Regions from separate parts of the Homo sapiens genome. Here region 2 is linked to region 1. A link means that fine-mapping ties the variant in region 1 to the expression of a gene that starts in the linked region. Tissue or cell type: lung. Region 1 holds a variant in brackets; the other region holds the start of a gene. All regions are shown on one strand. Distances are between the middles of the regions. Region 1 overlaps TENM4 (teneurin transmembrane protein 4). Region 2 holds the start of TENM4 (teneurin transmembrane protein 4).

The links. PIP is the estimated chance that this variant, and not a neighbour inherited with it, causes the effect.
Region 2: it holds the start of TENM4, and the variant in region 1 is fine-mapped to the expression of TENM4 in lung (TOPMed, PIP above 0.99). The same link has a PIP of 0.9 or more in ileum.

What each region holds. Positions count from the first base shown.
Region 1 is chr11:79,405,858-79,411,234 of GRCh38, forward strand. The region is part of intron 1 of TENM4 (teneurin transmembrane protein 4); the gene reads right to left. Among named protein-coding and RNA genes, the nearest start is that of MIR708, 6.4 kb to the left of the region's middle. The variant T/G (reference allele first, on the strand shown) is at 2,338.
Region 2 is chr11:79,438,936-79,444,312 of GRCh38, forward strand. It overlaps TENM4 (teneurin transmembrane protein 4), which reads right to left and starts at 2,095. Exons shown (of 34, transcript NM_001098816.3): 1 at 1,574-2,095. RefSeq lists silencers at 1,684-1,793, 2,054-2,223.

The sequences.
Region 1 (5,377 bases):
AAAAAAAAAAAAAACAACTAGCTCCTAGATGTGCTCTTAACTGCATGTCCTTATCTGGAACTCCGGATGGGCGAGAACCCCATCTATGGAGGTGTCTACAAATGCACACATCTGGCCCTGCCCCAGAGCTGGGACCAGAATCTCTACGGTGATCTCCAGGTTGGAGTGGGGGCTCACTTTGATGGTTCCAGCCTTAACCACCGCACCAGGGCTGATGTTTCTTGGCCTGACTGTGCAGACATACAATCTTGACCAAAGACAAGGTTCTGTTCTCCCTACACTGTAGCACCCGAGACTTGCTGACAGTCATTGTGGCATGAGGCTCCTTCCATCTTTTGGATTTCTGCCACACCCCCAGCCTATCTGCTCTATTATTAACCTAGTGCAATTTTTCTTCACATTCAACTGACTCTTTGTTTCTGGAATCAATTTATTTTAAAAGGAAAATGTATCTCATTATCTTAAGTGAAAAAAACACCATCTTTTCATGAATAGAAAACAAAAAGGTTAAAAAATGAATATGATGAACAAAACAAGGTGAATACTGTTGCCTCCTCATCCAAACTCAGGTCTCTGTTAAACAGGGAGATGAACAAGCATTGGCGAGGTATTAAATACCTACCAGTGCCAAAATCAGGCTTTCTCCTCCACTAAATCAGAAAGATTAAAGAGGAAGTGAAACAAGACTTTCTCACCATGTGATCCAATGTTACTTAACACCGTGCTTAGGTAACACACGCAACCATTTGGTCCCAGTCCCCCGTGGAAAACACCTATCTAGTCCAGCCTTCTCCATTTACACAGGAATAAAAGAACCCAAGAGTTAAGCGTCAGGCCTTTGTCACATCTAAGCCTGGCAGCAAAGCAGAATGGAGAATCTAGGTCTCCTGGCTCCTAAGTCTTATTTGATAATTCTTTAAAAACTGTATTTTTAAAAAAATATGGGCAGCAGAGTATACAGGGAGAGAAATATATATTTACTCTGATCTTTCCTTATCAGATCCCAAAGCATATTATGATAGAAGAGGTTAAGGAAACAAAGCATATCTGTATCAAAAGGAAAGCAAAAAAATTTGATCATCAAGTAATTATTGACAATCTACTTCTGTGCCAGGCTCTATGCTCTGTGCTGGGCCCATCAACAGAGAACAAGAGACAGTTTCCTGCCCCTGACCCCCAACCTGTCAGTGTATGGGGCCAATATTTGGACTAGAAGTGGCCTGTGTGGACTGATCATTCACTCAATTCATTGCTCCACGAATATGTATGAGTACCTAACTATGTGTCAGATTTCCATAAATAATTTTTATGGGAATATTGATGGTCTCTTCCAGACAGTTACTCTGATCATTCTACTTACTGCTAAGAGTCAAACATAAGAATGGCAGGATTTAAAAGTTAGGTCAGTTATAGAAAACTGTTTTATAAAACTGATGCTGGACGTCTTAATGAGGGATATAATTTAAAAGCATTAAACAGTTTAGAAACTGTTACTAATAATAGCTAACAAGCAAACCAATCATGTAATTAGTAATAATCAGCTAACATTTGTTAGATATTTATGATATGCTTGATATCGTGCTAAGCACTTTCGCAGATCCTGACTCAATACTCACAAGAATCCTGCTCATCTGCAATACACAGACTTGGAACCAAGGCTTACAGAGGTTAAGTAACTTTCCCAAGATCCTGCTGCTAATAAGTAGCGAGACCTAGATATAAATCAGGATAGGTGACAGAAAGTTAAAACCTCCCAAAATGTAAAAGACATGCTTTCTAGAAGAAAAATATACATTTGTTGAAATTTGTATCACTTTAATTACATTCACAAAGAAGAGGGGAAAATTTTAACCTCCTTCAAAGTTCATCTACTAGTTGAACTCTTTATCAGTAGTTAACAAATGGGTGAAGATAGTGTTTCCCAAACTTTTCTGTGCTAAGAATCACCTGGAGGGCTGGTTAACAGGAATTGCTGGGCCTCATCCCCAGGGTTTCTCATTCAGTAGTTCTAGGGTGGAACCTGAAGATTTGCATTTTTTCTTTTTCTTTTTCTTTTTTTTTTTTTTAAGAGAGTCTTGCTCTGTCTCACAGGCTGGGGTGCAGGAGCATGATCTTGGCTCACTGCAACTTCTGTCTCCCAGGTTCAAGTGATTCTTCTGCCTCAGCCTCCCAAGTAGCTGGGATTACAGGCACCGGTCACCACGCCCAGCTAATTTTTGTATTTTTAGTACAGACATGGTTTCATCATTTTGGCCAGGCTGGTATCGAACTCCTGACCTCAAGTGATCTGCCCACCTTGGCCTTCCAAAGTGCCAGGATTACAGGTGTAAGCCACCA[T/G]GCTGGGCCAACCACTGCGCCCAGCCATCTTTCCTTTTCTTTTCCTTTTGGTTAAAATCCTAGAGAAAAACTTAGGAAAAACTCTACTGGATGCTGGCCAAGATTTGCATTTCTAACAAGCTCCCAGGTGAAGCTGATGCTGCTGGTCCGGAGACCACACTTAGAGAAACGCCAGGTTATGAGTTCGTGGGCTTTAGAATTAGACAGACTTGGGTCGGAACCTTGATTTTTCCATTTGCTTTATGTGCAAGTCACAGAGGCAGAGCTACTTATCTAAAAAAGAGAATATCACTATTGAATAAAATCGTTTTGAGGATTACATTAAACAAGAATATGTAACCTCTGTAATAATCTCCCAAATACCTGGCATATACAGGTATTCAACACACTGGCTTTGTTAATATTATTGACAAACAATCCACTAGGAAAAATGTCTAATAACTTTTCCACTACATGCTTTATTGGAGATGGAAAGGAAGAAAATTGCATTTTGGGGGATTGTGATATTTCCTCCCAATAAGTTTGTCTTTTTTATGCATAAAGATGTTAGAAAATGGTGGCTGATGAAAAAGGAAGGCATATGCAGTGGAAACCCATCAAAGCCAAATGCCAGGAGTTGAGAAGGGCAGCTCTTTTCCCAGCACCCATCAGGTGGTACAGAAGGACTTGTAGGCAAAATTAGAGGTGCTTGATGGGATCTGGGCTCAGTGGAAGCTCATAGCAGAATTAATAATTATCACATAACAATATAATTGCATGGCCTTTTTAAGGCACTTTACTGTTGAATGGAATAAATAAGAAGTATTAAGTTCTCCTTTTGGTCTTCCTTTGCCTGAATTATAAAGTGTTGTCTATGAGGGATATTTTGTGTGTGTGTGTGTGTGTGTGTGTGTGTGTGTGTGTGTGTGCGCGCGCGCGCGTGCGTGCACGCGCACGCACATGCGTGAGAGTTAGTGGTTTTAGAATAAGCTGTAGAGATAAATTTTGTTGTGAGCTTCTCTTCCAGAAAAAAAAAAAAAGATTATACTAAGGAATAGAAATTGGCATTGGAGCTAAAAATAGCTGTGTGGTAGAGTGGTGGGAACACTTGGGCACATTTTAGAGCTGTTTAGGAGTGTTTAAAGCATTTAAAGGTAGATTCTGGGGCATAGAGCAGGACTGAAATCATCTGATGAGGCATACATTTCTAAGGCTATTCACAGGTTCATAAGAGTGAGGCATATTTGTGTGACCCAGTGGAGAAGGGTTAAAATGGAATGAGGGGCGGCAGGAATCCAGCGTGGCTAGGGAATTTCACCAGCTGCGCCTTTGCTGATGCACTTTAACTCTTGGAGCTGCAGGTTCCCATGAAGGAGGGTGGAAGAATAGCCCCCCCGGAACCATTCTGGCTGCTCCATAGCTGCCCCCTCTAGTCCAGGTCTCAGCTCAAATGCAGTCTGCCTGACCACGCACACCAGCTGTAGCAGACACTACGGATGCCCTCAACCCACCTGCAGCCTCCATAGACTGCTTCCACTCCATAAATGCTTCCTAACTCAAGTCAGACACATATTTCTCTGCTTTGGGACTCTCTGGAGGTGGAGGCTCCACAACCAATGAGGAACATCTGTAGGTGGATACATACCCCAGCTTTCTTGGCCCCTGATGGAACAATAGTCCAGCAAATGTGTCAGTGTCCCTCTGAGGGTCCCAGCAGGAATGAGCTCTAGTTGCCCACAGTGGTAACCTAATCATTAAATTACCCTCTGTTTACAGGGGTATCCAATCTTTTGGCTTCCTTGAGCCACACTGGAAGAAGAACTGTCTTGGGCCACACATAAAATACACTAAAATGATAGCTGATGATCTAGAAAAAAAATAGCAAAAAAACCCATAGTTTTTAAAAAGTTTACGAATTTGTGTTGGGCCGCATTCAAAACCATTCTGGGCTTCATGGAGCCTGCAGGCTGCGGGTTGGACAAGCTTGCTCTATTAGCTTCCCTTCCTTTCCCATTTCACTTCCTTACTTTCTCAGCAGGCTTCCTGGAATCACCTTGCAAATTGTTACCTACACTCAAATCCTTTTCTCAGGGCTTTAGGAAGAACCCAAACTAAGACAATATCTAAGGTCCCCAGCACCTCTCCAGTGCTCCATCATACCACACTGTTTAATTTCCTCTCTGATCACTTTCTGAACTTACTTGTTTCCTCTTCTCAGTTCTCCACAAGGGCAGAGAGACTGGTTCTACTGCATCCCCATCACCTAGAACTGTGCCTGACTGGGGCTCAATACATATTAACTGACTAAATGACCACTTTGAAATGGCTTCCTCCTACAATTGTTTCTATAAACAGGAATTACACTATTATCACTTGATATCAACTCCATCTTTTTCCCAGAATATAGTCCTGTCCTAACACATATGTATGAACAGGCAGAGAAGTGTATATGAAAAGAGTTTTGGAATTCAAAGAGCTGTGACTTTGGGCAATTTATTTGCCTTCTCTGACCTTTCCTGAGGCCATCTCAAAATTAGGAATAGTATTGCCTGCCTGATGGGTTTACAGTGAAGGCTAGGAGCTTAGGAGATGTGAAGTGCCTGGTACGTGGTAGGCATTTAATAAGTGTGAGTTTCTTGCTTGCCCGTTTCTTTCACTTACCTTCTCTCTAAACCTCCATAGTAAGTCCTGTACTCTACAGGGAGGGTTCTTTGAGAACCTTTCTCCATGTCGGGCCTACCTCTGTCCTTGTTAATCATCCCTGTGCCCCTCTACACACACATACACACACACACACATACAAACACACACTCAAGTGGATATGGTCACTCATTACAGGGCCAGCACCCATATTCTCTACTAGCTTGTACTTTCTGCTTCCATGTGGTAGATCCTGGCCCTTCTATCCAGGCTACTTGGCCATTTCACAGATAGGAAAAGTGAGGCTCAGAGAGGGTAAGTTTAAAGCTTCTGGGCTAGTAGGACACACAGACTGCCTGACTCCTGAACCCTTGATCTTCCCCAGGCCATGGTATTTTCATTAGGCTCCCTAGAAATCTAG
Region 2 (5,377 bases), 33 kb after region 1:
CGGGGTGGGGGCGCCCCGGTACTTACACTCCCCAAGCAGGCAAACTTTCAGGCTTGTCTTTCGAGAACCGGGAGCTCGCATCACAGTTCCGGGTAATCACCGAGGCAGCTTATGTAATTGCCCGCGATGCCGCTCAGCAGATCTCTCTCCTTACTCGGCCTCAGAGCTCAGTACATGGGCACCCTCTTCCCCCCACCCCCCACCCCGGCGATTGGAATCCCGAGCTTGCCCCACCACCGCCTTCTACAAAGCAGCGGGGTGATCTCGTGTGCTACAAACACCAAGCCAGTATGCAGGTTCAGGCAAAACTCTGGCTGCCTCCCTGCGCCCCTTTCACTGCGTCGATGGTTTACAGATAACTGCATTTCTATAAACCCTCTCTCCACGGTTAGGGGGTGGGAGGGAGTTAGAGATCGGGTGGGGGCTTGGCGCGGTACTGTTGAGGGCTCTGCACCCAACTGAGCAGTAATACACTCATCCACATGGACGCGGGTGCATAAATCGCCTTAACATTTTGCCCTGAAAGCGGAGCCAATTTCCAAAGTTAAGGACCACGCAGCTGAATTTCCAGTACTTTCCAACCTCGCCTAGGCGGGGGCAGGCAGAGAAGGGGCGGGCAGCGGGCAGCTAACTCGCCCGACCCCCCCGCCAAGAAGGACTCACTAGGTGAACCCCCCGCCCTTCACCCAAGTAGTTGGTTGTGTATTCCTCGGTTGCGTGTGTGTGTCCACACACACACACACACACACACACACACGCCGCCCCACTACCTTCCAGTCTGCTCCTCCAATGTAACGACCGCATTTAAAAATGGCAATTAAAATGACTGAGGAGCTCGGTGATCACATTTCAACCCAGAGCACATTTCCCGAAGCTGGGGGTGAGAGTAGTCATACAGTCACACTCACACCCGGGAGCCCTCCAAGCGTCCATCTGGCGGCTGCAGCCTCAGTTGGCTCCTAGACGAACATCAATACCGCGGCCGGGCGCCCGGTGAGGAGAGGCGGGCGCCCCGCGGGTTGCAGAGGGCGAGGAGCTGGGGTCGCATCTCCAGGATCTGAGCTCCAACCACCGCCCGTGCGGGGCTGCTGCAGCCGGCACTTGCCCCGCAGGGCAGGCTGCAGCCGCTGAAGCCCGGCGCCGCCTCGCGGGCTCCTCCAGCGCCCGACGGGGGCCTGGGGCGAGCTAGTCTGCAGAGGGGCTGCAGGCGACCGGGCCGGGGCGGGGAACGGGATCCGGGAGAGGCAGACGAACCTGGGGCGCGCCGCCTCCCTCCCACCCGCTTCCCACCTCCCTGCCCTCCCCCAACCCTTGCTCCCAGGCTCCAGTCCGCGGCGGGCTCCGGGGGCTGCGGCGGCTCCAGGCTCCAGAACAGCTTGCCTCTTCGGCCACCCGCGCCCTAGCCTCCCTCCTCCTGGGCCAGGGGAGCAAGCAAACATCTCCCGGAGCCCTCGGCAGCCGCGTGAGCTACCCGAACCCTGCCCGGGCCAGCAGTGCAGAGGGCGATGGAGCTGGCGAGGCGTCGCCGCGGTCCCCAAGGCGCTTTTCCGTAGAGCGGATCACGCCGCCTTACCGTGGCTGCAGGCTGCTACCGCCGGGGAAGCGGCGAGGACGGCGGCAGGGAGGCAAGGCGCCGCGCCGGTGGCTCCTCTCTCTCTCGGCGGCGCGGCTCCTCTGCTCCGCGAGCCGTAGCGGGGCGCCCAGGAAGGAGCAGGTCCGGGCTCTGCGCTCAGCTCCAGCGAGACCAACAATAGCTCCCGCGGGGAGCGGAGCCCCAGCGAGCCTCCAGCCGCGCGCGCACGACCGGCTCCCGCTCCCGGCCGCTCCCGGCCGGCGTCCCTGCCAGCACTGCTGCCCCACATGAAACAGCTGCAATCCCGAGGCTTCTGGGGGGTTGGGGCGGGTGTGTGCGCGCGCGTGTGTGAGTGTGTGTGTGTGTGTGTGTGTTTAATAGCTTCCCTTCTCTTCTTCCCCTCCCTGCCTGCTCGCCTGCCTGCCTCCGTCCCCCACCCTCGCTCTCTTACACACAGAAAGAGAGGGCGAGCGAGAGAGAGACACACACACACACGCACACGCACACGCAGGTTACATGAATGGGAGGCGGTAGCCAATCCTACGAGGCCGGCGAGCCGCGCGGCGCACTGGCGCTGGGAGCAGGGCCGCACTCCGGCGCGGGGGGGCGCCACGCAGGTGATGGGCGCCTCTCCGGGGGCCACGCGCGGCCGCTCCCTCACCCCAGTCTCGGTTCCTCTGTCTCCTTCCCCCTTCCTCTCCGCCGCCTTCTCCATCTTCTCTCCTTTTACCTCCTTTGCTTTCTCGAGTTCTCCGAGCTCTCTCAGTTCGGTATCTTTCTGGTCTCTTTCTTCTTTTACCCTCCTTGCTTGCTTTCTCTTCCCCTTTCTGAAACTTTCTCTTTTCCTTTCTGGACTTTCTTGTACTTCCTCTCCTCTTGCCTTTTGTTCTTTCCTCCTCCTTTGGCTTTCTCTCCAGGCTCCCCGTAGCACGGTCTCGTCCCCTCTCCCTCCTCTTCGCCTTTCCCTGGGTCTCTCTGGCGCCCAGGGCCTCCCTTCTGCCTGCTCGCTGGATGTTACTCCACACCCCCCACCCCAACACTTTTCTAGGGACGGTCTCTTTCAAGTTGCTACTGCAGCACAATCAGAGTAATTAAGAGCTGAGATCTTGAGTTCCTTCTTCAGGCATGCAAGATGCCCAAAGAAAGGCCCTCCTTCCTCGGACAACTTCCCCAAAACCATGGTAACAGCTACTGAGTCGTGATAACAATCACTTAAAAAATAGCAGTGATTGCGGTCCAAGAGATTTCTGTCCCTCGAATGTTTGGATCGTGATGGCAAGCACATTTCCAAGAGAAGGGCATTTTTATGTGATGAGAGCGGTAGTTTGACTGAGTGGCAACTTGGAAGGGCTTTGGGGAAGAGACTGGAGGAATTCCCACTCCAGCCCTGCTGCCTGCTGGCTAAAGGACTTAGTGCGAGCCATTTCCCCTTACCCGGCTTCAGTTTTCTCATCTATAAAATGGATGATACCGACTTCACCAGTTTTGGTGAGGATTAAAAGAGAGAACAATGGAAAGAAAGCACTGGGTGTATATGAGATGCTTAATTTATGTTAGTTTCCTTCTTTAAGACAACTTCCTTCATGATCTTCTGCTACAGTGTGTCTCTCTGATCTAAAGTAGTCAATGAAGGAGGAAATGTGACAATGCTAATTTCACATAAATGTGAAAGGAGGGGTAGGCTATTTTGAAAACTCTTCTGTGTGGTGAGGAGACTGTCTAGCCAGTTGCCATATGCTGATTATAAAGGCATCACAGATTATAAACGTGGGGTGCTGGAATGCCCCTTCAACATCTCATAACTAGGGCATCTCAGAAAGGCAGGGATGGGTTGGGGTGGGTGGGAAGTTTCCACACAATCTGTCCAATCTATTTTTAAAATCTTTATGATAAGTGTACAGTGACCAGTGACAAAGCCTCTGAGATTAACTAAAATGTCAAGTCTCTGCCTTTGAATAGCATTTATCAACTTTGTGTCCTCACTGCAGACATCAAATGCTGGGCATCAGCTGTGATTGGCAGTTAGATTTAGTCCTTCAACAAATATTTCTTGACCACCTACTTTGTGGCAGGTGCTGTGATAGGTCTCGGCATTCAGTGGTGAGACAAACAGGCCCTGTTTTCTGAGCTTACAGTTCAGTAGGCATGTTTCATGAATGTACACTGAGAAAATGAGACACATGTACCTGAAGGAGTAACATTGGTTTGGTGGACAAATTCTTTCATTACAGAAGATCCAAGACAGGGAGTATAAGAAAGGGATCTTTGAGAGTGATAATTTTGCAAATCACTTTCAGTCTATGCATTTCATTTGACCAGTGAGAAAAATGAGACCCAGATGCTAAAAGTAGTGGGTGAAAGTATGTTGAGAAACAAAAAATATATATAGGTTCAAAGTATCTGCCCACATGATACTGATTAATTTCAAAGGGGAAAATAGTAACTTTTCAATAGAAAACCTGAAAGACTCCACCTTGAGTGATTAAAATCAGTATTAGCAGGAATGTGACAAATAGACATCAAGTGGCCCCTGATATAGTGCACTGGGAAGGACATATCACTTCTGTGATATTCCTGGTAGACATGAATAACCTGAATCTAATCATGAGGGATGCCCAATGGAATTGTTGGGAGTAAGGGAAGACTTCCCATAGGAGATGACAGGTTCTCACTCTGTCATCCAGGCTGGAGTGCAGTGGTGCCATCTTGGTTCACTGAAGCCTCAACCTCCTGAGCTCAGGTGATCCTCCCACCTCAGCCTCTTGAGTAGCTGGGACCACAGGCATGTGCCACCACACCACGCCAAACTAATTTTATTTGTTTGTTTGTTTGTTTTACAGATGAGGTCTCACTATGTTGCCCAGGCTGGTCTCAAATACCATCAATCCTCTGCCCTAGGCTTCCCAGAGTGCTGGGATTATAGGTGTGAGCTACCATACCTGGCCTTGAGCTGAGTTTTGAAGGCAAGGAATTAGCTAGACCGTGAAAGGAGGGGAGATGCTTTTTAGGTACAGGCAATAGTATGATGACATGGACAAAAGCATGAGACACTCATAGCAGAGTTGGACATATTGGGGGAGGGTCTTGGAGGAGTCTAGATGAGTCCCTAGCATCTAGGATTGGATTTTGACAGGGCCTGAAGGAGGCTAAGGATCCAAACATCCTGAAAGTTCAGGTACTGGGGCAGAAGGAGGGTAGACAGTTAATAAAGGCTTTTAAGAAGAGGAAGGATGTGATCTTGAGTGTGTTTTCAAAAGATGATTTGGCAGCAGTGTAGAGAAATGGATTAACTGGGGTGACTTAGGAAGAGTAGAGGCAGGAAAAAGTAGGTCATTTAGGGAAACTAAGGCAGTTGCAATGAAGCCAGAAAAGGGAGGAGAGATTTGAGAGAGATTGAGGATGATTTTGATTTCTGATTGGATGGGGGTAGCAAGGAGAAGCCCAAAGTGACACTCAGTTTTCAAGCTTGGGTATCTCAATAGAAGGTGGTACTACTCATTGCGATGTCAAGAGTATTCAGGAGGAAGTAGAATTCAGGGAGCATTTTAGAGGGGGGAAAAAAGGTCAGTTGCTACCATGTTATAATCTAACTCTATAGCTAACCGGAGATTCTCCTATATGGCTGCTCTGTGCCATAGGAAACACTAGTTGTAAAATTCAGCCTAAGACCTCCAAACAGCCAGCTCTACGTATTGCCCAGAAAAACAGGAGATTGGATATAATGACAGTACATTATTTGTAATAATGGGAAAAAAATTGAAGCAGCCTAAATGGTCAAATAAAATAAGTAAACTGGAGGACAGC